Homo sapiens: one gene and its partners. The protein of the gene in region 1 purifies or fractionates together with the protein of each later gene. This does not show direct contact. Each region holds a gene or a part of one and is shown in the gene's direction. Other genes may lie near its edges.

Evidence for each region.
Region 2: the proteins of SKP1 (region 1) and ARB2A purify together in Homo sapiens (affinity purification with mass spectrometry; 3 studies listed by BioGRID and IntAct, with this or other methods). This does not show direct contact.
Region 3: the proteins of SKP1 (region 1) and MYCBP2 purify together in Homo sapiens (affinity purification with mass spectrometry; 4 studies listed by BioGRID and IntAct, with this or other methods). This does not show direct contact.
Region 4: the proteins of SKP1 (region 1) and FBXO38 purify together in Homo sapiens (affinity purification with mass spectrometry; 6 studies listed by BioGRID and IntAct, with this or other methods). This does not show direct contact.
Region 5: the proteins of SKP1 (region 1) and ARIH1 purify together in Homo sapiens (affinity purification with mass spectrometry; 4 studies listed by BioGRID and IntAct, with this or other methods). This does not show direct contact.
Region 6: the proteins of SKP1 (region 1) and ARHGEF6 purify together in Homo sapiens (affinity purification with mass spectrometry; 3 studies listed by BioGRID and IntAct, with this or other methods). This does not show direct contact.
Region 7: the proteins of SKP1 (region 1) and FBXO36 purify together in Homo sapiens (affinity purification with mass spectrometry; 3 studies listed by BioGRID and IntAct, with this or other methods). This does not show direct contact.

What each region holds. Positions count from the first base shown.
Region 1 is NC_000005.10:134,163,065-134,167,449, reverse strand, and holds part of SKP1 (S-phase kinase-associated protein 1), read left to right. Parts: intron 1-206; coding exon 207-280; intron 281-4,385. UniProt on the Homo sapiens protein: Essential component of the SCF (SKP1-CUL1-F-box protein) ubiquitin ligase complex, which mediates the ubiquitination of proteins involved in cell cycle progression, signal transduction and transcription.
Region 2 is NC_000005.10:93,880,850-93,885,234, reverse strand, and holds part of ARB2A (cotranscriptional regulator ARB2A isoform 1 precursor), read left to right. Parts: intron 1-3,546; coding exon 3,547-3,765; intron 3,766-4,385. UniProt on the Homo sapiens protein: Plays a role in the regulation of alternative splicing, by interacting with AGO2 and CHD7. Seems to be required for stabilizing protein-protein interactions at the chromatin-spliceosome interface. May have hydrolase activity.
Region 3 is NC_000013.11:77,047,144-77,051,497, reverse strand, and holds part of MYCBP2 (E3 ubiquitin-protein ligase MYCBP2), read left to right. Parts: intron 1-335; coding exon 336-501; intron 502-4,354. UniProt on the Homo sapiens protein: Atypical E3 ubiquitin-protein ligase which specifically mediates ubiquitination of threonine and serine residues on target proteins, instead of ubiquitinating lysine residues.
Region 4 is NC_000005.10:148,435,609-148,439,993, forward strand, and holds part of FBXO38 (F-box only protein 38), read left to right. Parts: intron 1-2,723; coding exon 2,724-2,890; intron 2,891-4,038; coding exon 4,039-4,184; intron 4,185-4,385. UniProt on the Homo sapiens protein: Substrate recognition component of a SCF (SKP1-CUL1-F-box protein) E3 ubiquitin-protein ligase complex which mediates the ubiquitination and subsequent proteasomal degradation of PDCD1/PD-1, thereby regulating T-cells-mediated immunity.
Region 5 is NC_000015.10:72,564,439-72,568,823, forward strand, and holds part of ARIH1 (E3 ubiquitin-protein ligase ARIH1), read left to right. Parts: intron 1-2,124; coding exon 2,125-2,167; intron 2,168-2,667; coding exon 2,668-2,739; intron 2,740-4,385. UniProt on the Homo sapiens protein: E3 ubiquitin-protein ligase, which catalyzes ubiquitination of target proteins together with ubiquitin-conjugating enzyme E2 UBE2L3.
Region 6 is NC_000023.11:136,774,138-136,778,522, reverse strand, and holds part of ARHGEF6 (rho guanine nucleotide exchange factor 6), read left to right. Parts: intron 1-4,385. UniProt on the Homo sapiens protein: Acts as a RAC1 guanine nucleotide exchange factor (GEF).
Region 7 is NC_000002.12:229,925,102-229,929,486, forward strand, and holds part of FBXO36 (F-box only protein 36), read left to right. Parts: intron 1-4,385. UniProt on the Homo sapiens protein: Substrate-recognition component of the SCF (SKP1-CUL1-F-box protein)-type E3 ubiquitin ligase complex.

The sequences.
Region 1 (4,385 bases):
TAATGACCAGGAAACAAGTCTACATGTTTAGTGCAAGACACAGCCATCCATTTTTTTTCCCAATATGTTTAATCTGTGGTTGGTTGAATCCACAGATGTAGAACTCATGGATATGGGGGCTGACTCTTATGTTTTGAGACATAGCCTGGTTGGTATAAGTATTATAATGGAATTAGGAAATAGAAACTTTCTTCTGGTTTTCTTAGATTTGGGAATGGATGATGAAGGAGATGATGACCCAGTTCCTCTACCAAATGTGAATGCAGCAATATTAAAAAAGGTAAGGTCTTTAAAGAGTTTAAGTTTATTCTGCTTAATATATAACACCAATTGATTAATACAAGTAATTCAACAATCTATGTTAGAATTTTATAATTTACTGCTTAAAATTACATTTAAATTTGAATGTTCTTAAACACTTACTTGAGTGATGTTTGTATGTTCTTAAAATATACAGAAAAAAGTTCTGTCTGCTTTCTTGCCACAGTTGACTATTGTCATTTATTGGGCATCTGTACTGTGTCTACCTATGCAAACACTTCCCTAGGAAGGATGATCTACATGTAGAATATCTGGATCGCAGGTTGGCTTATATACCTAAATTTTGATAGATACTGTTAAATAGTCTTCTGTAAAGATACCACTTCTAGAGCATGGTGGAATTGAATCGTGACTGTCTTTCTTAGATTTATAATTTTGAAACGGCTAAAGTCAAAGGAATATGTAACACTTTGTTCCCATTTCTGTCCTTATCTATTCCAGTCCCCTTTCAGGTAGCAATTTATCCTTTCAGTATTTTGTAATACAGGTATTAACAAGTAAGTATATTTTTTTCCCACATTCTTTTTTTTTTTTTTTTTTTTTTTTTTGAGACCAGAGTCTTGCTCTGTCGCCAGGTTGGAGGGTAGTGGTATGATCTCGGCTCACTGCAACCTCTGCCTCCTGGGTTCAGGTGATTCTCCTGCCTCAGCCTCCTGAGTAGCTGGGACTACAGGCACACGCCACCATGCCCAGCTAATTTTTGTATTTTTAGTAGAGACAGGGTTTCACCATGTTGGCCAGGATGGTTTTGATCTCTTGACCTCATGATCTGCCCACCTCAGCCTCGCAAAGTGCTGGGATCACAGGTGTGAGCCACCGCGCCCAGCATTCTCCCCCATTCTTAAGGTAGCAAACTATACATTTCTATGTTTTTTTTTTTCCATATAACAAAATGAAAGGTGATATGTCTATGTTAGTTAATATATAGCATCTTTTTTTTTTTTGAGATGGAGCCTCGCCCTGTTGCCCAGGCTGGAGTGCAGTGGTGTGATCTCAGCTCACTGCAGCCTCTGCCTTCCGGGTTCAAGTAATTTTCCCTGCCTCAGCCTCCCGAATAGCTAGGATTACAGATGCCCACCACCACACTGGCTAATTTTTATATTAGACAGGTTTTCACCATGTTGGCCAGGCTGGTCTCCAACTCCTGACCTCAGACGATCTCCCTGCCTTGGCCTCCCAAAGTGCTGGGATTACAGGTGGAGCCACCATGCCTGGCTAACCTGAATTTTTTTGTGTTTGTTTGTTTTTTTGATCTCACTCTGTTGCCCAGGCTGGAGAGCAGTGGCACAATCTCGGCTCACTGCAGCCTCCACTTTCCAGGTTCAAGCAATTCTCCTGCCTCAGCCTCCCAAGTAGCTGGGATTACAGGCACTCGCCACCACGCCTGGCTAATTTTTGTATTTTTTAGTAGAGATGGGGTTTCACCATGTTGGTCAGGCTGGTCTTGAATTCCTGACCTTGTGATCTGCCCACCTTGGCCTCCCAAAGTGCTGGGATTACAGGCATGAGCCACCGAGCCTGGCATTTTTTTTTTTTTTTTTTTGAGACAGACACTCTGTCGCCCAGGCTGGAGTGCAGTGGCACGATCTCAGCTCACTGCAACCTCTGCCTCTTGGGTTCAAGTGATTCTCCCGCCTCATCCTCTCGAGTAGCTGGGATTACAGACACCCGCTACCATGCCCAGCTAATTTTTTTATTTTTGTAGAGATGAGGGTTTCACCATGTTGGCCAGGCTGGTCTTGAACTCCTCACCTCAGGCGATCTGCCTGCTTTGGCCTCCCAAAGTGTGAATGTTTTTACATGTGTTACTGGCCATTTACATTTTCTGCATTGTCTGTTTTCATTTCTCTGTTTTCCTAATGGTCTTAGAAAAATAGTGATAAAATATACATAACATTGATCATTTTCACTTTTTGAACGTGCACCATTCAGTGACATTAATTACATTCACAGTGTTGTGCAGCTATCACCACTAAGCATTTTCAGAACTTTATCATCCCACACTGAAACTCTGTACCCATTAAACTGTAACTTCCAATTTCGGTACACCCTCCCCCCTCAAAAAAAAAATTGGTACACCCTCCCCCCTCAAAAAAAAAAATTACGCTAGGTAAACACTATTCTACTTTCTGTATCTGAATTTAGCTATCCTGGATACATAATATATGGAATCATACAATATTAGTCCTTTTGTATCTGGCTTATTTCACTTAGCATAATGTTTTCAAGGTTCATCCATGTTGTTGTCTAATGAGCTTAAAAAATTGTGGTAAAATACACATAACAAAATTTACCACCTTAACCATTTTTAAGTGACAATTCAGTGGTATTATCTAATAGGCTTTTTATAAGAACTCTTTAAAAGTTTCTACCAGTTTGCTTGTCTTACGTTAATTCATGTTACGATTTAGAGGCTTTATTTTATCTAGTTAGATCTCATTCTTTATGACTTCTGAATATGTCTTGCAATTAACGTATTCTATTTTATACTAATGAAAAATGTTTCTAAAAGGATCTTTGCTTGTAGTCGAATGCCTGGTACATTCAAATGCCATCCAAAAGCTGGGGGTATAGCAGTGAACCAAAGAGACAAAATCTCTGCCCTTATGGAGTTTATGGTCTGAAGGGGTGGGGAATATGCAACATTAGAAATACATCAAATGGAAAAACTATGGAGAATAAAGAAGGGAATGGGGAATTTAAAGGGGTGAGTAGGTGAACAGTTAGCTGTTTTTAAAATAAAGATGGTCAGGAGATGTCTTACTGAGAAGATAATCTTTTTTTTTTTTTTTTTTTTTTTTTTTTTCTTGAGATGGAGTTTTGCTCTTGTTGCCCAGGCTGGAGTACAGTGGCACAACTTTGGCTCACTGCAGCCTCTGCCTCCGGGCTTTAAGCAGTTCTCCTGCTTCAGCCTCAGTAGCTGGGATTACAGGCGCGCGCCACCACGCCCGGCTAATTTTTTGTATTTTGAGTAGAGATGGGGTTTCACCATGTTGGCCAGGCTGGTCTCGAACTCCGGACCTCAGGTGATCCGCCTGCCTCAGTCTCTCAAAGTGCTGGGATTACAGGCTTGAGTCACCATCCCTGGCCGAAGATAATCTTTTAAACAAAGACGTGAATATTTGGGGGAAAAGAATTCTGGGATTTGGGAGCAAGTACAGTGACCTTAAGACAAGAGCATGCCCTGCCTTTTTAGGAAAGGCAAGGAGTTTAGTGGAAGCTAGAGCAAGAAGTGAGTAGATAAGGTCAGAGTTAAAGGGTTGGGTGATGTAGGGCCACTTCTGAGAATGAGAAGTGCTTGGTTTTTGGGGTTTTTTTGTTTGTTTGGTTTGTTTGTTTGAGATAGGGCCTCACTGTGTTGCCTGGGCTGGAGTGCAGTGGTGCAGTCATGGGTCACTGCACCTTCTACCTCCCGGGTTCAGGTGATCTTCTCACCTCAGCCTCCCGAGTAGCTGGGAGTACAAGCACATGCCACCACACTTGGCAAATTTTTGTATTTTTTGTAGAGATGGAGTTTCACCATGTTGCCGAGGCTAGTCCGGAACTCCTGGGCTCAAGCGATCTGTCTCCTTTGGCCTCCCAGAGTGCTGGGATTATAGGTGTGGGCCACCACACCCAGCCGAGAAGTTTTTTTTTTTTTTAAGCCTGTTTGTATTGAATATATATCATATTTTGAAGAATAATTACATGATGCCAAAACTATGGAAGTACAATAAAATCTCCTTTCCCTGTCTCTTATCTGATTGGAAACTGCTCCCCCCACAAAGTAATGTGGCATTTTTTTGTTTTTCTTTTTTACTGGCACCACCCGTTGTGAACCTAGGCATTAGTTTCTTTATATATCCTTTTAAGAGTTTTTTATTTTTAAATTTTTATTTTTTGTTAGTAGTGATAGTGATTTTTTTTTTTTTTTTTTGACAGAATCGCACTCTCTTGCTCAGGCTGGAGTGCAGTGGCACGATCATGGCTCACTACAGCCTCAGCCTCCTGGGCTCAAGTGATTCTCTTGCCTCAGCCTTCTGAGTAGCTGGGACCATAGGTGTGCACCACCAGTCCCATCTCAT
Region 2 (4,385 bases), about 40 Mb from region 1:
AACTTTATGGGTACATTCATGAAAGGTCACACTAGCATCTCTTCTTACTAATTTTGTTGTGTACTGATTGAGTTACTGGGAATGGAAAGAATCACTTTTTTAAATGGTATTTAGTCTGATTTTTGAGGAAGTTGATATTATTCAATTTAAAACAGTAAAATTTAACTAGTGACATTTTGTCTTTGCTTTGTTTTACTCTATTTTCTTTGACTCTTTAGTTTCCATATATTGATGTTGACATGGCAAAAATCTTGGTAGCTTATATAAAGGAAATTTTTGCCAGTGTTACATATGACAGAGAAAAGAAGGGAAACATTAAGTTTTACTATATATCTGTGGTTAGAGCACATAGGTGGGATAGTTAACTTTATTTTCTTACTCCTGCTTTCTGCTACTCATTACAAAATGGTTATGAATGATCTCTGTGAATATTGCATTAATTAATTTAACAGAAATATTTTAATTTTAAATGTTAGTTTTTTTACAGAACAGTAATTGAATTTGCAACAAAGATATTTATTAAAATCCACTCTCATTTCTACAGAGAATGTTCCTGAGTATTTCTTGATTGTTGTCACATTAATTAAATTGGCAATCTGAAATATCTAAAGGATAAAATATTTTCTAAATAGTTTGGGTGTTTAAATAGAAGCATCCATTGTTGAAATCTAAATGATAACAAATCTTCAATTGATTTATATAGTGGTGATTTAAAAATAGAATCATTTCTCATCTGTTGATGCCTAAGGGAAACATTGACATTGTGCCTTTATGATATTGAACAGATGAGTCATGTAATTTTCAGTTACTTAGACAAATACTGCTTCTTTGATGATATATAAATGCCTTTTTTAAAATACTTATTTACATGGAACATATCAAATTTCAGAGTCTTATTTCAAATTAAGTAGGCACGATAATTTTTCAATCTATGATTTCTAAAAATTGAAGTTTAAAGTTCTGCTCAAATAAGCCAGATATGAAAATATTATTTTTTTGATTAAGTAATAAGATAATAGTCTTACAATTCTGGTGACTGTAAATTTTGTTCAAAGAGTTTACCTTTATTTGAGATTTATTCATTATACAAAGATGATGCCATGTTATTTCAGCTTATTAAAGTCCCACTCTTTTACCTTGAGTGAAGTTTTTGAATTTGAAATTTTTCATATTATCATTAAAATGTAGTATATCACTATTTTCATCTCTACTAATTTTAAGATTCTATTTTGGTCTTGCTAATTTTAACTCCTGAGTATGAGAGGGTGGTGTGTGTGTGTGTGTGTGTGTGTGTGTGTGTGTGTGTGTGTATGTGTATGTGTATGTGTGTATGTGTGTTTAAAGTTCAATTCACTCAGAGAAGGCAAGGAAGAAACATGACAGGAGACCACTTACTCACGGTACAGAATCTAGTAGGGAGGCAATTTTCTTTTTGGCCTATGGTGACCTTTTTTGACTATGTTCCTTACACCAGAGACAGTGTACTGAATGCCTCTATTTCACCCTGTTTAGCAGAGTGCAACAGTGTTCTTTAACTTACTTTTGGTGGGAGGAGAAGTTATAGCTGAAATTTGAGAAGGGCGTGAAAAGTTGTAAGAGGCACAAGGAAGAGGGGTAGGAACTTCCTTCAAATGTGATTTTAATAACTAGTCAAGTGTGTCCAACTGTAGAAAATCACCAAGTGACAATCTGTCTACCTGACAGTGATCACAATGAATTACAAGACTTTTGAATAGCTATACAGATTAGAATAAAGCAGGACCAAATAAAATATCTTTTGTTGGTAAAACTTTTGACTTAGAGCTAAGAAACTTTAAAAAAAATTCTCTTTTGCTTTGATGTAGAAAGTTTAAATTACAGAATGTGTAAAGTGTTTTATAAGCTTTTTGTGAAAGAAGCATTATTCTAAAAGCTTTATTTGAACATCTGTTGAAGAATGGGTGGTGGTTTGTAAATCAGTTTGCTATATATTATTATATAGTTTCCATATATGTAAGATGACTGTATCTTAATTAATAGTCCTATCATTAAAATCAGAACTTCAGTGATCTTGAAAATTTCCAAACTAAATAATCGTTTTAGACAATAATATCATCTGATGGAGGAAAAAATAGAAAACAATTCCAAAGAAGTTTGTAAGTAGTTTGTGAAATCAACTGTTTAAAAAAACCAACCATGTGCAGTAATGCAGCATATTTTAAAATAAGATAATTGAGTCTGTGCTATTACTGGTTTACTATTACTGCTGTCAATTTTTTAAAATCATCTTATGGTTGGTTTGGCAAAAAATTTAAAATTTAAACTTCAAGTAGAAGATTCTACAGTTACTGTCTTGAAAAACTATATATACTACCTATTTTAAGTAAGGATGAGATTTTATAAGTTTTATTTTCTATTAAATAGATTTTCTAATAAATAGATTTTGTGAGCTATTTTCTGTAGCTCTTATGTTTTTATTATAATATCATACATCTTTTAAATATGACCTTATAGTATTTTACAAGGACATAATTGGAACCTCACAACACATAACTGAATAGAAAAGACAAGATATATAATAGCTTCAAAAATTTGTGTTACCCATGCTTGTCAATGGTTATTGTTTATCCCTCTCTATATTTTCTCATGGTTAGCTTATTCCATTAGACATAATATAAATATCAAACGTTTTCTTAATTATAACCACAGAAATGTTTGCCAGGCTAGAAAGAAATGAGACAGGAAAACATGTTTTACAAATTTAAAAAAAAAAAAGCCTTAATAGCTCAACAAGCTGTATTTTTTAACTTTGGAACCTTGCTTATTTCCTGATTATAGTTTTTAATAAAGAGAATTTTTATGGTAGGTTGAAAAATGAAAGAAATTTTAAGATTAAAGACTTGCTTCCATACATTATAGTAAGACAGTGGCTTATTTTGCTACATGATTTTTCTGGCCTCCTGTGAGAAACAAAGTGAATAAAATTCAAGGTACACAAGTAGATGTTATGTCTTTATAATAATGTAGGTATGGATGGTTTTGTAATGTTAAATCAGATTTATTCTTTTTTAACTGCTTATTCTTTTTAATTGTTCAGACAAATAAAAAATGCTCTTGAAAGGGCCATTGTAAAGAAAAATATACAAAAAAATGTAGTTTGAATTGTAAACTTTGATTTCAGAGGTTGTTTTCTCAAAACAGATAGTATAAATATTAATATAATTTGAAAGTTTACTTGAAAATAAATTATTTGCTAATTTATTTCAGTCATTTTTGGGTTCTGAGATATCTGAATTAGTTTTTTAATTTAAGCTTTATAATCTTTATGTTGCAATTATATTTTTTGTTCTTATAAATAATAAAAGCTTATTTATATACACAATAAAGGCAAACAATTTTAAATGACTTTCTTTTGAAAAAAATAAAATCATTATCTTGCCTAAAGGAGTATTTTAATGAATATGCAACTATATAAAAATTGCTTAGACTGAAATTTTAAGAACTTTTTTGAAAATTGAAATGGATTATAAGATTTAAATTATGCTACCTTCTTTCATTTCAAAACAGGAAGGATATGGAGTAATAGTACTAAATCCCAATGAAAACTATATTGAAGTAGAAAAGCCGAAGATACACGTACAGTCATCATCTGATAGTTCAGATGAACCAGCAGAAAAACGGGAAAGAAAAGATAAAGTTTCTAAAGAAACAAAGAAGCGACGTGATTTCTATGAGAAGTATCGTAACCCCCAAAGAGAAAAAGAAATGATGCAATTGTATATCAGAGTGAGTGAGATCACTACTTTCCTTTACTATTTTCTTTACCTTGTATATATTTTATTATATGTAGATTGTTTTGTTTTTCTTCAAGAATATTAATTTTTTTATTTGTCATCATTTATTTCCCATAGTCGTCTACTTGGATTAAATGGGTTTTTAAATTCAGAATTACAAAACGCATCATTCTTATTTCAGTGTGACATTTTATAGAAGTCACAAATGCAAATTCTGTTTCCTTTTGTGTCATATACTACCTCAAGAAAAATTTTCTAAAATAATTTTATTGTGATGGATGCAGAAGGCAGAAAACTTGCCAATTCAGTTTCCAAACACGCTGTTTCTTTAAGGAAACATAGCATCAGCATAACATGCCGTTATGTTGTCCATAAGAGAGAGTATATGTAGCCTCACAATTCTAAGACATATCACCTGCTGAATTAATAATGCTCCATACAAAACATTCATCTTGGGGGGTAAGGTTTACTGGATAATGCATTGTTTTACGATGAGCAACTATCTACAGTGTCTCAGCCTAATGTCTAAAGGCAGATAGAGGGAGGAAGAGTAATTAATATCTTAATAAATACTTAAGCCAAAATAGTGTAGGGATAGTGTAATGAGGGAAC
Region 3 (4,354 bases), on another chromosome or scaffold:
CATCTGTGAGATTATAAGAGAGGTTAATTTCATTAATTTTCAGTTTGACCAGCCATAAAACATTCATAAAGAAATTAAGTACCTTGCTTATTAAATCAGATAGATTATGATGGAAATGGAATTAGAACTTGGATCTTTGTCCAGACCTTTTGGACAGGCCACATATTTATTTGTTAGTTTTCAAACATGTGTATCATCAGTTTTTCAATCAATTTTTAGAGTTATGTAGGCCCTCAAAATATGAATTAAGGAGCTGTCTATGTATATGCCTATCTTAAGTGTGATTGAAATAGTCTCACTATGATCTTGTGTCTGTCTCTTCTCTTTTGCTATAGATGTGTCCCAAACATGGCACAGACTTTTTGGAATATAAATGTCGCTACTGCTGTTCAGTGGCTGTTTTTTTCTGTTTTGGAACAACACATTTTTGTAATGCTTGTCATGATGATTTTCAAAGAATGACTAGCATTCCTAAGGAAGAACTACCACACTGTCCTGCAGGTATGCTTTTAATATTTTAAAATCACGATTATGATCTATATACCATAGTTTTATGTAAACATTATATGAAAGCTCTGTTTCAAGTGACAGAAACTCAATTCAAACTAGCCTAAAGAAGCAGGAGGAATTCCTTGATCCTTGTAAGCTTATGACTTTCTGGGTGAATTAGGAAGCAGGCTCATCATCATGAGTGAGAAGTTAGCTGTGACGGAGCAGATCTCATGGGGAGTGAGAATGAAGTCTACTAAGGATTGGTGAAAAGATGGCTGTTCAGCACTAAAAAGTCATATGAAGTTCAATATTACAGAACCATTTAAAAGGATTCTGTGATTTTTTTTTTTTTTTAACGAAGCCTGGAACCGTTGCCATAAAATGAACCAAGTGATTTAATCTAGAATGGCTGGGAATCAGTAGTGTAGTGAGCATCAGAAAGTCAAGGGAATTAAAGAAACCACTCAGAATACAGGAGAAATTATTGTCTATGGAAAGCAGGCTGAGGGGAAAGAAGTATGAAACCAAAAAGAAGCTGAAAATACTGGAAGAGGACAGGAGGCTAGTGGCAACGGTGAGGTGGAATACCAGGCTTCACGGAAGTGAGAGAAGTGGAAGGAGAGGTCCGTGCAACCATAGGAGAGAATTTTACATAAGATATATCTGAAATTAGTGAAAATACATGCACAAGTACATACAACACAATATACCGTGTTGTCAAAGCTAGAAAACACACACTGCCATCTGCTGCCTATCAGAGTGCAAGTGATAGACCTCTCCGGAAAACAGCTTAATAGTGCCTCTCAAAATTACCAGCGTATCAACCCTTCAGCACTCCCTCTTCAGGGATATAGCTACAAATGTGAGGACAGTAAAAAAGGGCAAATAAACAAGGTTATTAACTACAGCTTTGCTATGATAATAAAAATGTATAAACAATGCTAGTGTCCAGTAGGGTAGTGGCTAATATTACGCATCAGTTTAAAAAAAAAAAAGAGTGAGGATGGTGTTTCTGTGTGCTGATTTGGAAAGATCTTCAGGAGATAGCATCAGATGAAAAAAGTAAATTAGGCCAAGTGGTGTGACTGACACCTGTAATCCCAGCACTATGGGAGACCGAAGCAGGTGGATCACTTGAGGTCAGGAGTACGAGACCAGCCTGGCCAACATGGTGAAACCCCATCTCTACTAAATGTACAAAAATTAGCCAGGCATGGTGGCGGGTACCTGTAATCCGAGCTACTCACGAGGCTGAGGCCAGAGAATCACTTGAGCCTGAGAGGCGGAGGTTGCAGTGAGCCAAGATTGCGCCACTGCACTCCAGCCTGGGCGACAGAGCTGTTTCAAAAAAAAAAAGCAAATTGCAGAACAGAGTATGCAGTATGCTGCCTTTTGTAAGAGGGAAAATGAGACTATCTAGTCATATTTGTTTATATTTACATAAAGAAACCCCTGGAAAGATACTCAAGAAACTAATACTATTGATTAACTATTGGGAAAAGCAAGAAAAAGATGAGGGTAGAGACTAGGGAAAGTTGCTTCCAATTGTGTTATCATTTTTAACATTTTGATTTTAAACCATGTGAAACATATACTATCCATTTCAAAATAAAGATAAGTAGGGTTTTTTCAAGTATGACTACTTTTTACCATTTGCTCATGTCAAATAAAAATTGTTTTACTGTTTCTCCTCAAATACTGTTTTTTTTTAATAGAAGTAGCAGGCTTTGAAAGAAGCAAGGCCAGAATGATGTGAAGCCAGGTTATGGAGGATAATGGACAGAACAGAGATGTGAGCCATGCTTGGAGGGAGGGGGTGATGTGCTGGAGGTCAGCAAGTGAAGGGAGTGTGGAAAGGGCAGTATTCTAGATGACTCTAGATGACTTGAGCTTGGAGGAAGGGCAATTATTGAATGAAAGTTGTAGGTTGTGGTCTGGAAAGAAATAGGAGCCAAGAGAAAAATCAGTCACACGTTGTAGCCATATGACCTGGAGGAGCTTGGGAGATAACCAGCCTCCAGTTGAGAAAGATTTAAGGCAAGCAGTATCTTCAGGGGAAATCTAGATTTTACTTAAAGTTTCCTCTATGTTAAAAAACAGAAATAAGAATGCTAAAAATAAGGAAGTTAACAATGAAACACTTTAGAGAACTCAGTGGTGGGTAGTAGCTGAGAGAGGAGGGTCAGGTTTCCTCACAGGATCAGGGCAGCCAACACAAAGGAATCACAGGAGGGAGGCGGGGGAGGAGCCAGAGTTGGCAGAAGGAAGGAATGACCTCGGTCCTGGGCATTTTCACACATATTTGCTCCATTTTTACAATCTGCGAGTAGATGGTATTATCCCTATGTTATCAAATGGAAAATTGAGGGCTAGGGAGGTTAATGAACTGGCCTAAGAACATACACTGAGATTGAGGTATACTCTCCCAGCCTCACACATCCCTCTAACTCATCCATTCATTTAGAGAACTGGAATAGAATAAAGGAGATCCCACAGGGATGTGAGTAGGGAAGATGGCCATATACAGTTTACTTAGAAGGACAGAAGAAGCAATTCTCTAACCACTCTCAACCCTGTTAATTCTAATATTTTTAGATAATCAGTCTTCATCCATTCAAGCTGCTATAACAAAATACTGTAAACTGGGTAGCTTATAAACAGTGGAAATTTATTCTCACAGTTCTGGAGACCAGGAAGTCTAAGATCTAGGAATTAGCAGTCGAGGTGTCTGGTGAGGACCCACTCTCAGCCTCATAGGTGGCACTTTCTTGCTGTCGTGGAAGGGCAGGGGGCCTCTCCTGGGTCTCATTGATAGGAAGAGCACTAATCCCATTCATGGATTCCACCCCATGACCTCATCACCTCCCACAGCTCCACCTCCTAACACCATAACATTGGTGTTAATGTTGTAGTCTCAGCAGTGCACCAAGATATAACAGTCTCTCATTGTCTGAGATAATGCCAGGAGTTCTTTGTCCTACCTCCAAGAAGATTAAGGAGCACAGATACAAAGGTGAGGTTAGAGCGAAAGTTTAATAAGCAAAAGAAGAAAGCTCTCTGCCAGCAGAGAGGGGGGCCCAAACAGGATGCTCCCGTGAGGCTGGGGCCCAGGGTTTTTATGGACTGGAAAGGGGAAGGAATGTGCTTAGTCTGTGGGCTGTCTTGGCCCGCAGCGTGACTCAGCTTGGCCCGGGACCCTGGCCCAGGAACCCACTGGAGCCCACTGTGCCTATGCCCACAAAAGGAGAGAGCCCCCTGACTATACAAAGGACAAAGGCATTTCTATCCCAGGTCTTGTCCTTTATCTGATTGAAGGTTTTTCTGTCTGTGCAGCCGTGGGCATGTCTTTAGGCACAATGCCCTGTGCTAGTTCCCTCATCGGTGCCTGCAGCTTGACTTTTTTTCCCCAACTGCTTTTTATGTTATATGGGGATGAGGCACTGACCTGTGGACCTGGGGCTCTCTGGGGACCCTTCCCTTGCTATCTACCTAAGGCAAACTAACTCCTTTCATTAACACGTCAGTATATAAATTTGGAGGAGCACAAAAACATCCAGACCATAGCATAATCCCTCTATCCATTTCTTTCTAAAATATTTATTGACTACCTTCTCGTGCCAGGATACTTAATCTTCACAGCACCCCATGAGTTAGGTATTGCTGTGTCTATTTTAAAGATGAGGTATCTAAGAATCAGAAAAAATAATTTTACTTCAGTTTCATATCTACAAAATGAGGATAATCGTTTCTGCCTCCTATGACTGTTAAATGGTTAAGTAGCTGATATACTAGAACAGTGCCTCAGTAGTAAGCACTCAGATGTTTGCAGGTGTGTTTTCACTATTTTTATTTCTCACCACCA
Region 4 (4,385 bases), about 14 Mb from region 1:
AAATACAAAAAATTAGCCGGGCATGGTGGCGGGTGCCTGTAGTCCCAGCTACTAGGGAGGCTGAGGCAGGAGAATGGCATGAACCCGGTAGGCGGGGCTTGCAGTGAGCCGAGACTGCGCAGCTGCACTCCAGTCTGGGCGACAGAGCAAGACTCCATCTCAAAAAAATAAATAAAAAAATACAGTGAGATTTGTGACTCTTCCTTTTACTTGAACACTTAGAGGCCATTGTAGTGTTATTAATTGGCCTAATTTCGACATCATTGTATCTCAGGGAGTAGGGAGACCTGAGGAAAGGGAGAGAGACAGGGGAACAGCCTGTTGGGAGAGCAGTCAGGACACACACAACATTTATTAAGTTCACTTATATTGGTGCAGTTTGTGGCACCCCACAATTAAAACAGTAACATCAGAGATCATTGATCATAGACCACCATAATGGATAAAATAATAATGAAAAAGTTTGAAATACTGCAAGAATTATTAAAGTGTAACCCAAAGACTCAAAGGGAGCACGTGCTTACTAAAAAAATGGCACCAGTAGATGCTCAATTCATGGTTGCCACAGACCTTGTGTAAACAGTGTAATGTCTGCGAAGCACAATAAAGTGCAATAAAATGAGAAATGCCTGTATATGTATATATATACATGACATATGCACACACCCACACACACAGTACAGGGTCTGACCTCTAGTAATGCCTAGTGATGTTAATTTGTATTATGTTAGTGCACGTTGAGCATCTCTAATCTAAAAATCAGAAAGCCCAAGTGCTTAAAAATTCAAAACTTTCTGAGCACTAACATGATGCTCAAAGGAAATATTCATTGGAGCAGCATTTCAGATTTCAGATTTTTTTGATTAGGGTAAGTATATAATGCAAATACTCCAAAATTTGAAGAAAAATCTGAAATCTAAAACACTTCTGGTCCCAAGCATTTCAGATAAAGGTTCGTCAACCTGTATTGCCAAAAAATATTGAGGTCTATTTTGTTTTATATCTCCTACCATATTAGTAGTAAACAAAGAAATCCCATTAAAAGGTATTTACCAAACATATTGTCATAAACTGAGGAGAACCCAAGAAAGGAGAGATGAAACTGAGATTCAAGCACTACTTCTCCTCTGAATTCTACAAAAGTTCAGACCTTGGGGACCCCAGACTCTATTGTTTACTCTGAAGTAGTAGTACTTTTCTCTATCCCAGCCAATGTGGTCTTTGGTCCTAAAACATCTTAAATTACTATCTCCTATTGGAGTTTCCTTTTACAGTGGAGAACACAGGCTCTTCAAAAGCTCAGAGATTGTAACAGTAGGGGTACTCACCCTAGCCTTACAGTAGCACTGGAAGAACTTTCATTCTGTCAGTACCTACACCCTTTGAGCTCTGAGAATGTAAAACTCAATCTTCAGACTCTGCCAGTCGGCATCTCGTTCCATTCCTTTCTCTACTCTGAGCTCTCCGAGAATCTGACTAGTTTTCTTCTTTTTACTTTGATGATTTCTCCTGTACCTTCTCTAACCTAATGATGGATCACACGGCCTCAGGCCCAACCTTCTCCCCTTTAAACCAAATTGTTTGGCTCAGCTTATCGTGGTGAGAGGATCTTAGCTTAGTCTGTAGGTAGTGGCTAAGTTAATGACAGCGGAGATGATTAAATGAGATTAGAACTGACCTTAGTCATGTCGGATTTTATAGCTAAGAACCACTGGATCCTTACTGTCATCTAGCGCTCTCCTTTCCTCTGTTGCTGTCCTCAACAACAGTTCCCCTTCTTTCCACCAAGTCACAAAAGGAGAAAATGAACGTGAGAGGCGGGAGTCTCTCTCAGTGTTTAAATGTCAAGTTAGTTACATTAGATTGCACAAGACGATGATGACATTTGGGTCAAGGATGTTACAGATGTCTGTGAAATGTTAAGATCAGACAAATGAGCCTGTGGTTTTATAATCTTTTCCATTTGATCTCTCTCAAGTTGGACCTGGTTGAAATCTGCAGTGAAAATTGGACCAGGTTGAAATTGGAGATTAAAAAAAGAGAAGGAAATATTTTTCTGAAGTTGATATACTAGTTCAGTTAAATGTGTTTATTATATCAAAATTACTTTTTTCTGACTTCATGTTTTATATGTCAAACAGAAAAACTAATCATGTTTTAGATGAGCATTTCAATAGAACTTTAATGTTCTGTGTCTACACTGTTCAGTATTATGGTAACCACTAACCACATGGCTACTAGATTGGACTGAATAGCTTTAGACCAAAGTATCCAAATGTGTTTCTGGGTCTTTTTTTTCAAGGTTCTACTTTTACGTTTGTGACAGGAATTAAAATCCAACTCTGCTCATTCCTGAGAGTGAATGTAAGGTAACATAGGTGAATTATTTCAGGTCTGACTATTGACTATAAAAATGTATAATAGTTACTCATTTTTTAAATAAATATTTCCTAAACAGTTTCTGTCTGGGCAAGTCATTTTCTGAGACTTGGTTTTCTTAACAGTAAAATCTTAGAAAAAGGCACTTTAATGCCCCTTCTACCTTCTTTTGAATTGAACAGAACCACATTTTCAAATTTTTTTGTTAACTGTGATTTGTACTCTATGATATTATTTGACCTCTGTTAAAGATGTTTGTTACTGCAGTATTTTGTGCCAACAAAAATTAGGCCATCTCTCCAAAGATGATATGTACGGAGCTTACCATTGTTTTCATTTTGTAGCTACCAGGTGCAGGGTACTAAAACATTTAAAGGTAGAAAATGCACCAATTGTAAACCGATTTGACTATGCACAGTGCAAGAAACTGAACATGGATCAGGTACTAGACCAGATACTAAGAATGCCACCCGAGAGAAACCGCATCATATACCTACGCCCAATGCAGCAGGTAACGAGCTTTGCTTCTTTCCGATGATACACATATTGTGGTGTTTTTCTTTTTCTTTTTCTTGTTAGTCTTTAGCCTTTTGGATTTGGCATTCATTCACTTGCCCAACCTACAGTAATGATATTTTAGTTTTTACAGGTTATGTATGATATAGGGAGTTGTTATTCAACAGGTTTTTATACTTATTAAAAGTTACCTGTGGTTTAAGAGCACAGTCTCTGGTTCAGACTGCCTGATTAAATTTCTGGCTGTCTGACCTGTAGCAGATTATTTGACTTCGATGTCTTAGTTTCTTCATCTGTAAAATTAGAATAATAATGATATACCCAGGATTATTGTGATATTTAATATATGTGAAACTCTAAAACATGTGCTAGTATATAGTAAGCCATCATATAACTACTGTTAGTGTCATTATCATTATTAAGAGTATATTGTATATAAGGTTCTGTGCTTAATGCCAAAAGAGGGTTTAAAGGAAATTTTAAATGCCTCTTTGTAATCAGTGTGTAAGCCTGGCCTCAAAAGAGTCAGTTCATCATATTGTCAAGTGTCTCAAAACTTAAAATATGCTGGGTGCAAATAAAAACACAACACATGATCCTTCCCTCAAGGAGTTTGCCTTCCCAAAAAGGAGACAAACACTTATGCCACGCAGATGGCCGAGTGAGATTTCATAACTAGAGATGGGGGAGGGTATGCCATGAGAAAAAAGCAATGTTATCAAAGGCTCCTAGAAGACAAGAAAATGCATTCTCTCTTAAAGACTGGGCAGCAGTCTCATTTGAATAGGGTATATGTTACTACACATTCACAGTTCTATAATGCAGTCAGTACTTAATAAAGGACATACACAGAAGTGGATTCTGAGTTGACTGACGTCATTTATCTCAATCAGGATTCTCTGGTTTAGTAGGCATTTAAATATAACAGTGAGATATAAATTGCCAAGTTCCCTAGACAGAAGAATTTGCAAAATTATTCCCAGCATGACAGACTGTTTTCAGGTCTGAATGTGACTATTTGATTTTCAAATCAGCCAGAGATTTCAAAACTGAAGGTCCATGGAAAGATTGTTCAAGCTCTCGGAGAGAGATTTCTAAGGCATTCTCTTTGTTGAAGACATCTCTTTATGATGTCTTCCACAGGTGGACACTCTAACTTTGGAGCAGAAGCTATTTAGTGGTCCCTACCCCTATCACATCTGTATTATCCATGAATTCAGTAACCCTCCCAATGTCCGGAATAAGGTGCGCATTCGCAGCTGGATGGACACTATAGCAAACATCAATCAGTAAGTAACTTTGTGGCCCTTAAAGGCCTTTTGAGTCATTTCTCATAGCAGGGACTCCCAGAAGCAAATCCCAATTTTTCTTTATTTTAAATGATTCCATCTAAGCTTTTCAAACAAGCTTATCCTGAAGTTAACGTAAGTAAGAAACTGAGGGAAATGAGGACTTAAAACTAAAAAGCATGTGTATATATTTATGATCTT
Region 5 (4,385 bases), on another chromosome or scaffold:
GCATTCCCTGCACTTCTGTCTTTCTGAATCCTCACCAGAATTACCCTTAACAATTCAGTTCATTCACAGTGATCTAGGCTTTTTCTAGCTTGCACTTCCAAGCTCTTCCAGCCTCTACTTACTACCTAGTTTCAAATCGGCTTTCACATTTTTGGTTTTGTTAGAACAGCACCCTCACTTCTTGGTACCATTTTCTGTCTTAATGTTCAGGCTTTTATAACAAAAGACCATAAACTGGGCGGCTTCTAAACAACATAAATTTATTTCTTACAGTTCTTAAGGGTGAGAAGTCCAAGATCAAGGTGCCAAAAGATTTGTTGTCTGGCGAGGGCCTGCTTTTCTGGTTCATAGATGGTGCCTACTTGCTGGGTCCTCATATGGTGGAAAGGACAAGGCAGCTCTCTGGGCCCCTTTTTTTTTTAAAAAGGATGCCAATTCCATTCACCTCCTAAAGGCTCCACATCCTAATACTGTCACATTGGTTATTAAGTTTTAACATACACATTTTAGGGGGACACAAACATTTATATCCTGCTAGAAGTTAAGATGATTTTCTGTTCCTTTGAGGGTCTTGAGGAGTAAGAAGCCAATCAAGTCAAGGGGCTCTAGACCCAGCAAATAGATTTTTTGTTTTGTTTTGTTTTGAGAGAGGGTCTCACTCCATCACCCAGGCTGGAGTGCAGTGGCACGATCTCGCACTGTAACCTTTGCTTCTCAGGTTCAAGTGATTCTTGTGCCTCTTGAGTAGCTGGGATTACAGGCGTGTGCCACCACGCCTGGCTAATTTTTATTTATTTATTTATTTGTTTATTTATTTATGTATTTATTTTTAATAGAGACAGCATTTCACCTTGTTGGCCAGGCTGGTCTTGAACTCCTGGCCTCAAGTAATCCACCTGCCTCGGCCCTCCCTAAGTGCTGGGATTACAGGTGAGAAGCACCATGGCCAGCCAGATTTTCTTTTTTGCTGCGGGGTGGTTTGGAGGGGGAAATATTTTATTGGTATTCCATACCTTTCTTTTTTTCCTCCAAACATCTATAGAATTACACTTAACACATCATTAATAATAAATATTTCCAAAAAGAGCAGGTAAGCTCACAGAGATTAAGTATGTGTAAAATACATACTGTTTCGATAAAGATTAATTATGTATTGTTATTTTAGAGAAAAGGTGGATAATACCTACTTTCCAATGTATTTTTAGCGTGACACATTTCAAACATAAAAGTATAGAGAATACAGCAGTGAATACCTATATAGCTACAATCCAGTTAAATCAAAATTAGTATTTTGTTTTTCTTCATTAAGAGATAAAACATGACACATATATTTGAAGCTCCTTGGTTCCCTGCTCCTTCCCATTCCCCATCTTTCTTTTCAGAAATAACCATTTATCTTAACCTGATTTAAATCAATAGTAGTTTGTTTCTGTCTTTAGCAAAGGACTTTTTGCCATTCGTAAATTACTTAATTAGCTAATTAATCTGTCATTTTATTATTTTTTTCTTAAGCATTTGTGTTTGTTAATTATACTTCTTTTACAAGTGTATATGTCATGAACTTAGAAAACAAAAGTGAATTACTGATTAACACATGTTTAGTGAGTATTTAGTCTTTTTGTTTTATACCTTGCCCAGTACCATTTCCCTCTACAGGGCGGAGGTTCATTTGTTTAAATAATGCAAAGATGTGACCTATTTGCTTCCCATATATTGTTTACTGTGTATTAGTACTAAATTATATAAGTAACCTACAAAGTCAGCCTTTTATTCTTCATTTAGGGTGTTAAGTAAAAGATTAAAAATGCACTGATGAAGCATGGGTTGAAACTTCTCAATATAGTCTGAGGCACCTTAGCAACAATTATTATGAAATTGTCATCAAAGCGTGTCTTCATGCTTATAGTCATTCTTCACACATATTGAGTACCCACTATGTGCTAGTTCTACTACTAAATTCTAGGTAATTAACTGTAAAGCAGACATGGGTTCTCTCCTTGTATTTGCCAGTCACTAGAAACTAGTGACAATACTGTGGAACTATAAGGCATGAAATGATTGGCTTATTTACTTGCTTACAGTAGGTAGGCCTTAATTCTATTAACTCTTTGTGTCACTTAACAGCTTTAACTGTGGAGAAAATTGGCATGATCCTGTTAAATGTAAGGTGAGTTTGTCTGACATTTCAATTTTTAAATAATGGCACACTTCTAAGACTTAGTGACTAAAAATCATAGCTGATGATTTTGTTATCTATCTATTGATAGATTTTTTTTTATCCTTTTAATTTCAGATGATCATTACATGTATTCAGAGGTAATTCCTTAGGATAAGCCAAGTCAGCTCCTGATTGTTATTAGGATAACCATGGCTAAGGCACCTCTTTGTCAGGCTTTGTAATTAGGGGAATACACACCTTGCAGTTGGGCTTCTCTTCAAGCTCTAGGTTCCCCACTCAGCTTCTGCCAAAGAAAATCCTGCTTTGGTTGATTTTATATATACTGGACATTGTAGCTATGGGATTTCCCTGGCTTAAGAGGATGTGAGCCTAGTGATAATCTTATTCATTGGCTTTTACATTTAAGCTTGACTATAGTTAAGTGCTAAAGTAATTTGCTATTTTTAAAAGTCTTTTGTTGTATCCTAACCGTTGTTATTTTCAAACAGTGGTTAAAGAAATGGATTAAAAAGTGTGATGATGACAGTGAAACCTCCAATTGGATTGCAGCCAACACAAAGGTTGGTGTTTTCCTTCAGTAACTCTTGGTAATAAAAATGATAAGGATTGGTACTTTGGCATTAGCAAAAGCAATGAGGTGACCTACTTACAGGCTTTGTTTCATCTTTTTCTCCATTGAGTCTTTTTTTTTTTTTCCCAGAATGTTTGCCTGTTATTTCCTTTTTCTCTTTGAGTTTATTTTAGAGTATTGAGTACTGTAGTACAGCATCCACAGTTCTCTGCCTTAGGTTTCTTCTACTGGAAAAAAAATTAGTGTTCTGTAGAGGAAAAAGCTGATAATTTTTCAAGTGTGGGATTTGTGCTTGGCTGCCATTTAGTATACAAATGCATTGGAGTTTACTCCGCCTAGCTTGGTTCTGTTAGGCTAATTTACATTTTTGTTTCTAATTTTTTGTTTTGAAGTACATTGCTCTTGATACTAGTTTCAAAATTCAATTTCAAAATTCACTTTCTTAACCCCAGACAAATGTCTTAGAAGTGTTTAAATCTTGAGTACCCTTCTCCTCGATCACTAATCTAATGAGCAAGCATTTGAATGCCAACCGTGTACCCAGCTAGTCTTTTAATACAAAGTCGTATTATCCATCCTTTATGTAATTCAGTCCTATCCTATCCCCATAGTGAGTGACTTGGGTAATGAATGGTAGGTTGGTTCATGGGCTATTCATTTTTAGTATTATTTTGTACATGTAAAGATGATGCTTTAAAGAATGCTGAGTTGTTTGACCCATAGTATATAAAGCTATCTTTGAACTGTTGCCTCAGTCATCACAGGACAATGAGATTAAGAAGTGTGTAAACAATGAAGGCCGACGCAGGTTGTCTGTGTGTGTTTAAATATACATCTTACATACTTATATATAAAACATGAATTTATATTTCTGTCTCCCAGAAAGTAGTGAAACAGTGAATCTTGCCACATAAAACAAATGCCCAAGTCTTTAAGGAATATATGGTAGAAATTAATATTTTTTGTTCCCTCCAAAACCATCACGATAAGCATAACTCACGTCAATCAAAGAAAACCTTACTATAAATATACTGTAATGTCAGAAAGTGGTTACTTGTTTTGTTATTAAAAAAAAATTCTTAGCCAAGCATTCTTTTTTTGAAAATTGAAGATTTTCCCACAAGAAATGTTCCTTAAGTCCCAGAATTCTTTAATATGCTCTGAAAAACTAATATTTAGAATAAGGCAATTATATTTTCACTAAATTGTTTAATTAAATGGTAGCCTTTTTTCTACATCTAGAGAAATTCCTACTTGTAAGCCCCAAAGATGTTTAAAATAGGGAGTACAGGCTTGAATATGTTTGGCTTAGTTTAGATTGTAGATTACCAAGGAAGAATGGCAATTTGTAAAACAAATTTAGCTGCTCAGTATTTTTGAGAGAAAACTGAAGAGTTTTTCTCTTGAGGTTTTAGAAGCTTTTAAGATTATTAGCTCCCTAAACAGATATGCATATTGTCAGTGATATCCTAACATTTTGGAGGTTTAATACTATTAGGTTAATTATAACCAAGAAATGTAGAATGTAGAATGACGCATATTTTATGCCTGAAATTTGCTTGTTTGGAAAAAATGTAAAATTTCTTATGTGGGTGATTTCAAAAATTTGATTTGAAATATATAATTAAAAAGTTG
Region 6 (4,385 bases), on another chromosome or scaffold:
AGAAAGAGACCTTGTCTCGAAAAAAAAAAAAAGAATCAAATAAGATACTGCATAATAATTTAGGGCCAAGAGCTCCAACCTTGTAAGATCTATGAGATAATTTATGTAGAGTCCTTAGCATAGGGCCTGGGACAGAAGAAGTACTCTATATTAATAGACTAGTATTAGTCATATTATCCGTGGACAAATAGTTGTGGTTTAAGCATGGACTGTGGTGCTAAACTTTTTGGGTTCAAATCTCAGTTCTCTCTTACTAGCAGCTTTGTGACCTTGGGCATGTTACTTAACTATGACTCTAGGCCTCAGTCTTCCTACCTACAAAATGGGAATAATAGTGGCACCGAATTCATAGGACTCGTGTGACCTTTTTAAAAAATATTATTTCAATAGTTTGGGAGGAACAGGTAGGTGGTGTTTGGTTACATGGATAAGTTATTCAGTGGTGATTTCTGAGATTTTGGTGCATCCATCACTTGAGCAGTGTACACTGTACCCAATGTAGAGTCTTTTATCCCTCACCCTACTCCCACCCTTCCCCCTGAGTCCCCAGAGCCCATTACATCATTCCTATGCCTTTGCATCCTCATAGCTTAGCTCCCCCTTATAAGTGAGAACATATGATGTTTGGTTTTCCATTCCTGAGTTACTTCCCTTAGAATAATGGTCTCCACCTCCACCCAGGTTGTCGTGAATGCCATTATTTTGTTCCTTCTTATGGCTGAGTAGTATTCCATGGTGTGTGTGTGTGTGTGTGTGTGTGTATGTATACATATTATATATATGTATATTACATTTTCTTTATCCACTCTTTGGCTGATGGGCATTTAGGCTGGGTCCATAACTTTGCAATTGCAAATTGTGCTACTATAAATATGTGTGTGCAAGTGTCCTTTTCATATAGTGACTTCTTTTCCTCTGGGTAGATACTCAGTAGTAGGATTACTGGATCAAATGGTAGTTCTACTTTTACTTCTTTAAGGAATCTCCATACTTAAGGTTTTCCATAGTGGTTGTACTAGTTTACATTCCCACCAGCAGTGTAGAAGTGTTTCCTTTTCACCACATTCATGCCAACATCTAATATTTTTTGTTTTTTTTTTAATTGTGGCCATTTCTGCAGGAGTGAGGTGATATCTCATTGTGGTTTGATTTGCATTTCCAGTGCTTAGTGATGTTGAGCATTTTTTCATATGTTTCTTGGCCATTTGTATATGTTCTTTGAGAATTGTCTATTCATGTCCTTAGCCCACTTTTTGATGGGATTATTTGTTTTTTGTTTTTGTTTTGTTTTGTTTTTTGAGACTGAGTCTCACTCTGTTGCCCAAGCTGGAATGCAGTGGTGTGATCTTGGCTCACTGCAACCTCTACCTCCCTGGTTCCAGCGATTCTCCTGCCTCAGCCTCCTGAGTAGCTGGGAATACAGGCGCCCGCCACCATGCCTGGCTAATTTTTGTGTTGTTAGTAGAGACAGGGTTTCACTATGTTGGCCAGGCTGGTCTCAAACTCCTGACCTCAGGTGATCCGCCCGCCTGGGTCTCCCAAAGTGCTGGGATTACAGGCGTGAGCCACCGCACCCGGCCTATTTGTTTATTTTTATTTCTACTTTATTTATTTATTTATTTATTTATTTATTTATTTATTTATCTATTTATTTATTTTTGCTGATTTGTTTGAGTTCCTTGTCGATTCTGGATATTAGACCTTTGTCAGATGCATAGTTTGGGAATATTTTCTCCCACATTGTGAGTTGTCTGTTTACTCTGCTGATTATTTATTTTGCTGTGCAGAAATTTTTTAGTTTAATTAGGTCCCATCTATTTATCTTTGTTTTTGTTGCCTTTGTTTTTGAGTTCTTGGTCATGAACTCTTTGCCAAAGCCAATACCTAGAAGAGTTTTTCCAATGTTGTCTTCTAGAATTTTTATGATTTCAGGTCTTAGATTTAAGTCCTTGGTCCATCTTGAGTTGATTTTTGTAGAGAGGTGAGAGATGAGAGATGCGGTGAGAGATGAGGATCCAGGTTCATTCTCCTACATGTGGCTTGCCAAATATCCCAGCACCATTTGTTGAATAGGGTGTCCTTTCCCCAGTTTATGTTTTTGTTTGCTTTGTCAAAGACCAGTTGGCTGTAAGTATTGGGCTTTATTTCTGGGTTCTCTATTCTGTGTCATTGGTTTATGTGCCTATTTTTATACCACTACCATGCTATTTTGGTAACTACAGGCTTGTAGTATAGTTTGAAGTCGGGTAATGTGATGCCTCTAGATTTGTTCTTTTTGTTTAATCTTGCTTTGGCTATGTGTGTTCTTTTTGGGTTTCATATGAATTTTAGGATTGTTTTTTCTAGTTCTGTCAAGAATTATTATGGTATTTTGATGGGAATTGCGTTGAATTTGTAGATTGTTTTTAGCAGTATGGTCTTTTTCACAATATTGATTCTACCCATCCATGAGCATGGGATGTGTTTCCATTTGTTTGTGTCATCTATGATTTCTTTCAGCAGTGTTTTGTAGTTTTCCTTGTAGAGATCTTTCACCTCCTGGGTTAGGTATATGCCTAAGTATATTATTTTTTTTGCAGCTGTTGTAAAAGGGGTTGAGTTCTTGATTTGATTCTCAGCTTGGTTGCTGTTGGTGTATAGTAGTGTTACTGACATATTGATTTTGTATCCTGAACTTTACTGAATTCATTTTTCAGATCTAGGAGCTTTTTGGATGAGTCTTTAGGGTTTTCTAGGTATACAATCATATCATCAGCAAACAGTGAGAGTTTGACTTCCTCTTTACCGATTTGGATGCCCCTTATTTCTTTCTTTTGTCTGATTGCTCTGGCTAGGACTTCCAGGACTATGTTGAACAGAAATGGTGAAAGGGGGCATCCTTGTCCAGTTCCAGTTCTCAGGAAGAATGTTTTCATCTTTTCCCTGTTCAATATAATGTTGGCTGTGGGTTTGTCATAGATGGCTTTTATTACCTTAAGGTATGTCCCTTCCATGCTGATTTTGTGGAGGGTTTTAATCATAAAGGGATGCTGGATTTTGTCAAATGCTTTTTCTGCATCTATTGAGATGATCATGTGATTTTTGTTTTTAATTCTGTTTATGTGGTGTATCACATTTATTGACTTGCATGTGTTAAACCAAACCTGCATCCCTGGTATGAAACCCATTTGATCATGGTGTATTATCTTTTTGATATGGTATTGGATTCAGTTACCTAGTATTTTGTTGAGAATTTTTGCATCTATGTTCATCAGGGGTACTGGTCTGTAGTTTTCTTTTTTTGTCATGTCTGTTTCTGGTTTTGGTTTGAGGGTAATACTGGCTTCATAGAATGATTTAGGGAGGATTATCTCTCTCTGTCTTTTGGGATAGTTTTAGAAGGATTGGTACCAATTTTTCTTTGAATGTCTGATAGAATCATGTGACATTTCAAGGAATTCATATATGTAAAGGCCCCAGAAGAGTGCCCGGAATGTAGTAAGTATTCTCTGCATGGTAGATATTATTATTAGCAATGCTGGTAGCTTTGCCCCAGATAAACTTTGCTTCCTTCACCATTTTTCCTAAAGTTAGCCCTAGGACCAGGTTATATCTGTTTCAGAATATTTTATTCCATTTTCCCCTATTGCCTAATTTGCACTCTCTCTCTCAATCTCTGTTTCTTTCTCTCTCTCTATTTATGTGTGGGTCTGTGTGTGTGACTTTTGAGGTAGGTGTGATGGGTGACCACTTTATATCCCTTGTAGAATAATGTCTACTATGGAATTTTCTTTTTTTTTTCTATTATGGTCCAGACTCTTCAGGAAATTTTAAATTTTTCTTTAATAAATACTATGATATTTTCTTTTTTATTCCTTTTTTTTTTTTTTTTTGAGACAGAGTTTTGCTCTGTCACCCAGTCTGGAGTGCAGTGGTGTCATCTCTGCTCACTGCAACCTCTGCCTCCTGGGCTCAAGCAATTCTCATGCCTCAGCCTCTCAAGTAGCTGGGATTACAGGCACGCGCCACCACGCCCGGCTAATTTTTGTATTTTTAGTAGAGACGGAGTTTCACCATGTTGGCCAGGCTGATCTCAAGCTCCTGACCTCAAGTGATCTGCCCACCTTGGCATCCCAAAATGCTGGGATTACAGGCATGAGCCACCACGCCTGGCCAATACTATGGTATTTTTTTTTTTCAAATAAAAACATGGTGAAGTTGCCAATGATTTCTGCATTCTAAAGCTGCCAGAAGGTTTACTTAGCTTCTTTGCAGTTCTAAGAATACTGGATGATACAGAAACACCTTCCAGGTTAGGCATTGTTCAGGATTTTTCTGATAACTAATGCTTACTCCTTTAAGCACCAATGCTTAAAATATTCTTCCACTTTGGATAGAAATATTTA
Region 7 (4,385 bases), on another chromosome or scaffold:
TTTTTATTATTTATTTATTTATTTTTTATTTTTTGCAAGTGAAAAACTCTCCTTTATCTCAGGTTCTGTCAGTTACATATATATAAAATCCTAAATTCTGATCCATTTTCTTTTTTAAGCATGCTGAATAAATCCACTACACTTCTACCAGTGAGAGTTAATCTCCAAGCTAATTAATTCACCCTCTTTTTAAAGTAAAATTTGTTGTAAAAAATGGCATGCCAAAAAAATATACTTTTCAGTCAACTGCCTTGAGAATATGCTATTTTCTAACCACAAGACAATTTTTCTGAGTCTCAGCACAGGAAACCAAACATCCAGTAAGAGGTGGCCTGACATAAATAAGTACTAAAAGACTAGCATTAAAATATGTTTTATAAGATAGATTTTTTTTCTGGAATGACTTTCTAAAATTATTTCTTGTACATTTCCTCCCCTTTCTCCTGTCTTTATTTTTTTAATGTTGTATATTATCCAAATTATGCCCCAGATTTAGATGAATCCTTCTTTCATGCTGATTCTGTTTTTTAGTCTCTTTTTCACTGCATCTTTTTCGTTGGCCTTAAATCCAAATAACTGCACATTTGACATGGATTTGAGGGCAGATATTTCTCTCATTAGTGTCATACCACCACTGACATAGTCCAGAATATAAATGTTATACATAAACATTTTCTTTGTTTATATAGTAACATTTGAAATATACTGTATGCTTATACAGGCACTTCTCTTTTACTGCTTGATACCATGTTGTTTTGGGTCTTGGGAGAGGGGTTTTATTCAAATAAATAACTTTTGGATTACAGCTTGGGGTCAGTTTAGTTTCTCGAAGCTGATCTTTATAATGATGATCTCCAGCTTTAGAAAAAATAGTGCGCTGCTTTCTAAATCAAAGATTCACTCAAGGGTTGGGCACAGTGGCTCAAACCTGTAATCCCAGAATTTTGGGAGGCTCAGGTGGGAGGATTGCTTGAACTAAGGAGTTTCAGACCAGCCTGGGCAACATAGCAAGACCCCTTCTCTTAAAAAAAAAAAAAAAAAAAAGGGGGGGCTGAGCACAGCTCATGCCTGTAATCTCAGCACTTTGGGAGGCCGACACAGGCAGATCACTTGAGGCCATGAGCTCGAGACCAGCCTGGCCAACATGGCAAAACCCCATCTCTACTAAAAATACAAAAAATTAGCTGGGCATGGTGATGCACGCCTGTAGTCCTAGCTACTCGGGAGGCTGAGGCAGGAGAATCGCTTGAACCCTGGAAGCAAAGGTTGCAGTGAGCTGAGATCACACCACTGCTCTCCAGCCTGGGCAACAAAGCAAGACTCAGTCTTTAAAATAAATAAATAAATAAATAAGATTTACTTGGCCAGGTGTGGTGGCTCACACCTGTAATTCCAGCATTTTGGGAGCCTGACGGGTGGATCACTTGAGGTCAGGAATTCAACACCAGCCTGGCCAACATGGTAAAACCCTGTCTCTACTAAAAATAAAAAAATTAGCTGGGCATGGTAGCATGAGCCTGTAATCCCAGCCACTGGGTAGGCTGAGGCAGGAGAATCACTTGAACCCAGGAGACAAAGGTTGCAGTGAGCCGAGATCTCACCACTGGGCAACAGAGTGAGACCCCATCTCAAAAACAAAAAAAAAAATACTGTTATTCTTACTCTAGCTCTAGTAGTTTACATATATTTTCTTATATTGGATTCTAATTCTTTGAAAACCAGTAGATTAATAAAGTGTTAGGGGTGGAAAGGATCTTTGTTTTTTTTTTGTTTTTGCAACAAGAGCCTCACTCTGTCATCCAGGCTGGAGTGCAGTGGGGTGATCTCGGCTCACTGCAACCTCCACCTTCTGGGTTGAAGTGATTCTCCTGCCTCAGCCTCCTGAGTACCTGGGATTACAGGCACCCGCCACCATGCCCAGCTAATTTTTGTATTTTTAGTAGGGATGGGGTTTCACCATGTTGGCCAGGCTGATCTTGAACTCCTGGCCTCAAGTGATCTGCCCGCCTTGGCCTCCCAAAGTTCTGGGATTACAGGGGTGAGACACCAAACCTGGCCAGGGCTAGAAAGAATCTTGAATATTATTTAGTTTGTACTTTCATGACACATATATATTCCTATTTATAGTGGGGAGAATGTAGCTAGTATTTGATTTGTAAAAACACTTTAATGACTAATCTTTTATATGTTGTATTTTTTTTTAACTCCAAAGGAAGTTCATGACCAATTGGCAAGTTAATGAGTGCAGGTGTTTTAAAATCTATGAGTTTAGAAGAAGCAAAAAATCACTTTATTCTAAGTGGTCCAGGAGGGTACTGTTACCAGTATTGTACTCTTGAAATGTTGTCTTCTTTGTCCTCTCAAAATGGAAGTGTTGCTTAGGTGGCCAGAACAGTTAACTTAGGTTTAATGTGACAAATACTGGAAAAGTGTTAGAAAGAGAATAATGGTATGCTAAGTAGATGGGAACTGGCAGATACGGCCTCTTGCAGCCAATAACCCAGGTGGTTGTCCGAAGAGCACCAATATGTTATAGTTAACTCCAGCAGATGAAAGAAGGAAGAATTGGGCAATAGATTCGTCTTGTTTTATCTCTTTTTCTAAATCCTATCCAAAGCTCCAAAAAGATATATGAAGCTAGTGTCATTTGAAAAAAAAAAAAAAATGAAAAAGCTCACCCCTCTAAAAAAAATGGCAATTATTTTTGAAGTGCATTAGAGTTGTGGCACTAAAGACTGAAAACACCTGAGGTTGCATGCCAGCCTGTGACAGGAAGCTGTCATCTCAATGACTTCTGACAAAAGAATTAAACTAGACTTGGTGATGGCTGGGCGAGAGACAACAAAAAATTGAGCTAGTGCCATTTCATACTGCAGACCAATTTTGAAGATTTAAAATGTAAATGCAGTCTAATAAAAATGTTAATGCACACACCCTTTGACCCAGCAAATCCATTTCTAGGATTTGGATATCCAAAAATGCTATCACATGTGCACAAGGATATGTGAGCAAGATTATTGACCAAAGTCAATAATTGTAAAAACATTTTTCCATGAGAGGAAATGTGGTTAAACTGTGATTCATTCATGCCATAGAATACTATCCAACTTTTCAAAAACAATGCGGTGGATCTCTGTTTACTCAGTAGACCAAATAAAATCTTTAGCAAGAAAAGCAAGTTGCTGGATTAAACATAGCATATCCTACTTTTTTAAAAAAGTGTTTTAAATAAATGTTAGTGAGGTTTTAAATAATTCTTAAAAGAAAAAGCTGGAATGATGCACTCTTAAGAGTTACAGATTTTTACTCTCCGCATTCATATTTCTGGAAGATCTGAATTTTCTACCATGAGCATTTATTTTTATAATCAGAGAAAAGCAATAAAGATTTAAAATGAAAGTGTAAATGGATAACTGTTACTTTGAGGTGGTGTCCTGCCTGTATTCCCCCTATTGGGCCAGCACCACCTTTCACCCACCTCCCTCATTGAATATTGAGGCTGAATATTGAATATTGAATATTGAATAGCTTTGATAGCTGTGTCCCAAACTCCTGCTGTTTTTGTGGAAGGAAAATAATTCTAATTCTACAGTTTTAGAGTGCAAATTGATTAATGATTAATTTTGCAATTTTCCTTGCAAAATTTTAAGGAGGATTTTTGGTGTTTTTGTTTGTTTTAGAGGCAGAATCTCATTCTGTCCCCCAGGCTGGTGTGTAGTGGTGCAGTCAGCTCACTGCAGCCTCAAACTCCTGGGCTCAAGCAATCCTTGCGCCTCTGTGTCCCAAAGTGCTGGGATTACAAGCATGAATTTCTGTACCCATCCTTAAGGAGGATTTAGTGTCTAGAAACTTCTGACCTTTTTTTCTTTTCATTTTTTTTTTTTCTTTTCTGAGACAGAGTCTTGCTCTGTCACCCAGGCTGGAGTGCAGTGGCATGATCTTGGCTCACTGCCTCCCAAGTAGCTGGGACTAAAGGCATGTACCACCCCGCCCGGCTAATTTTTGTATTTTTATTAGAGATGGGGTTTCACCATGTTTGCCAGACTGGTCTCAAACTCCTGACCTCAAGTAATCCGCCCGCCTCAACCTCCCAAAGTGCTGGGATTACAGGCGTGAGCCACTGCACCCGGCCTCTTTTTCTTTTTAATATAAGTAATAATTACCTTTGAGAAACTAAAGGAGCTGGGTATGGTAGCTCACACCTGTAATCCCAGAACTTTGGGAGCCTGAGGCAGGCAGATCACAAGGTCAGGAGATCAAGACCATCCCGGCCAACATGGTGAAACCCCGTCTCTACTAAAAAAAAATAGAAAAATTAGCCAGGCGTGGGAGCGGGCGCCTATAGTCCCAGCTACTGGGGAGGCTGAGGCAGGAGAATGGCTTGA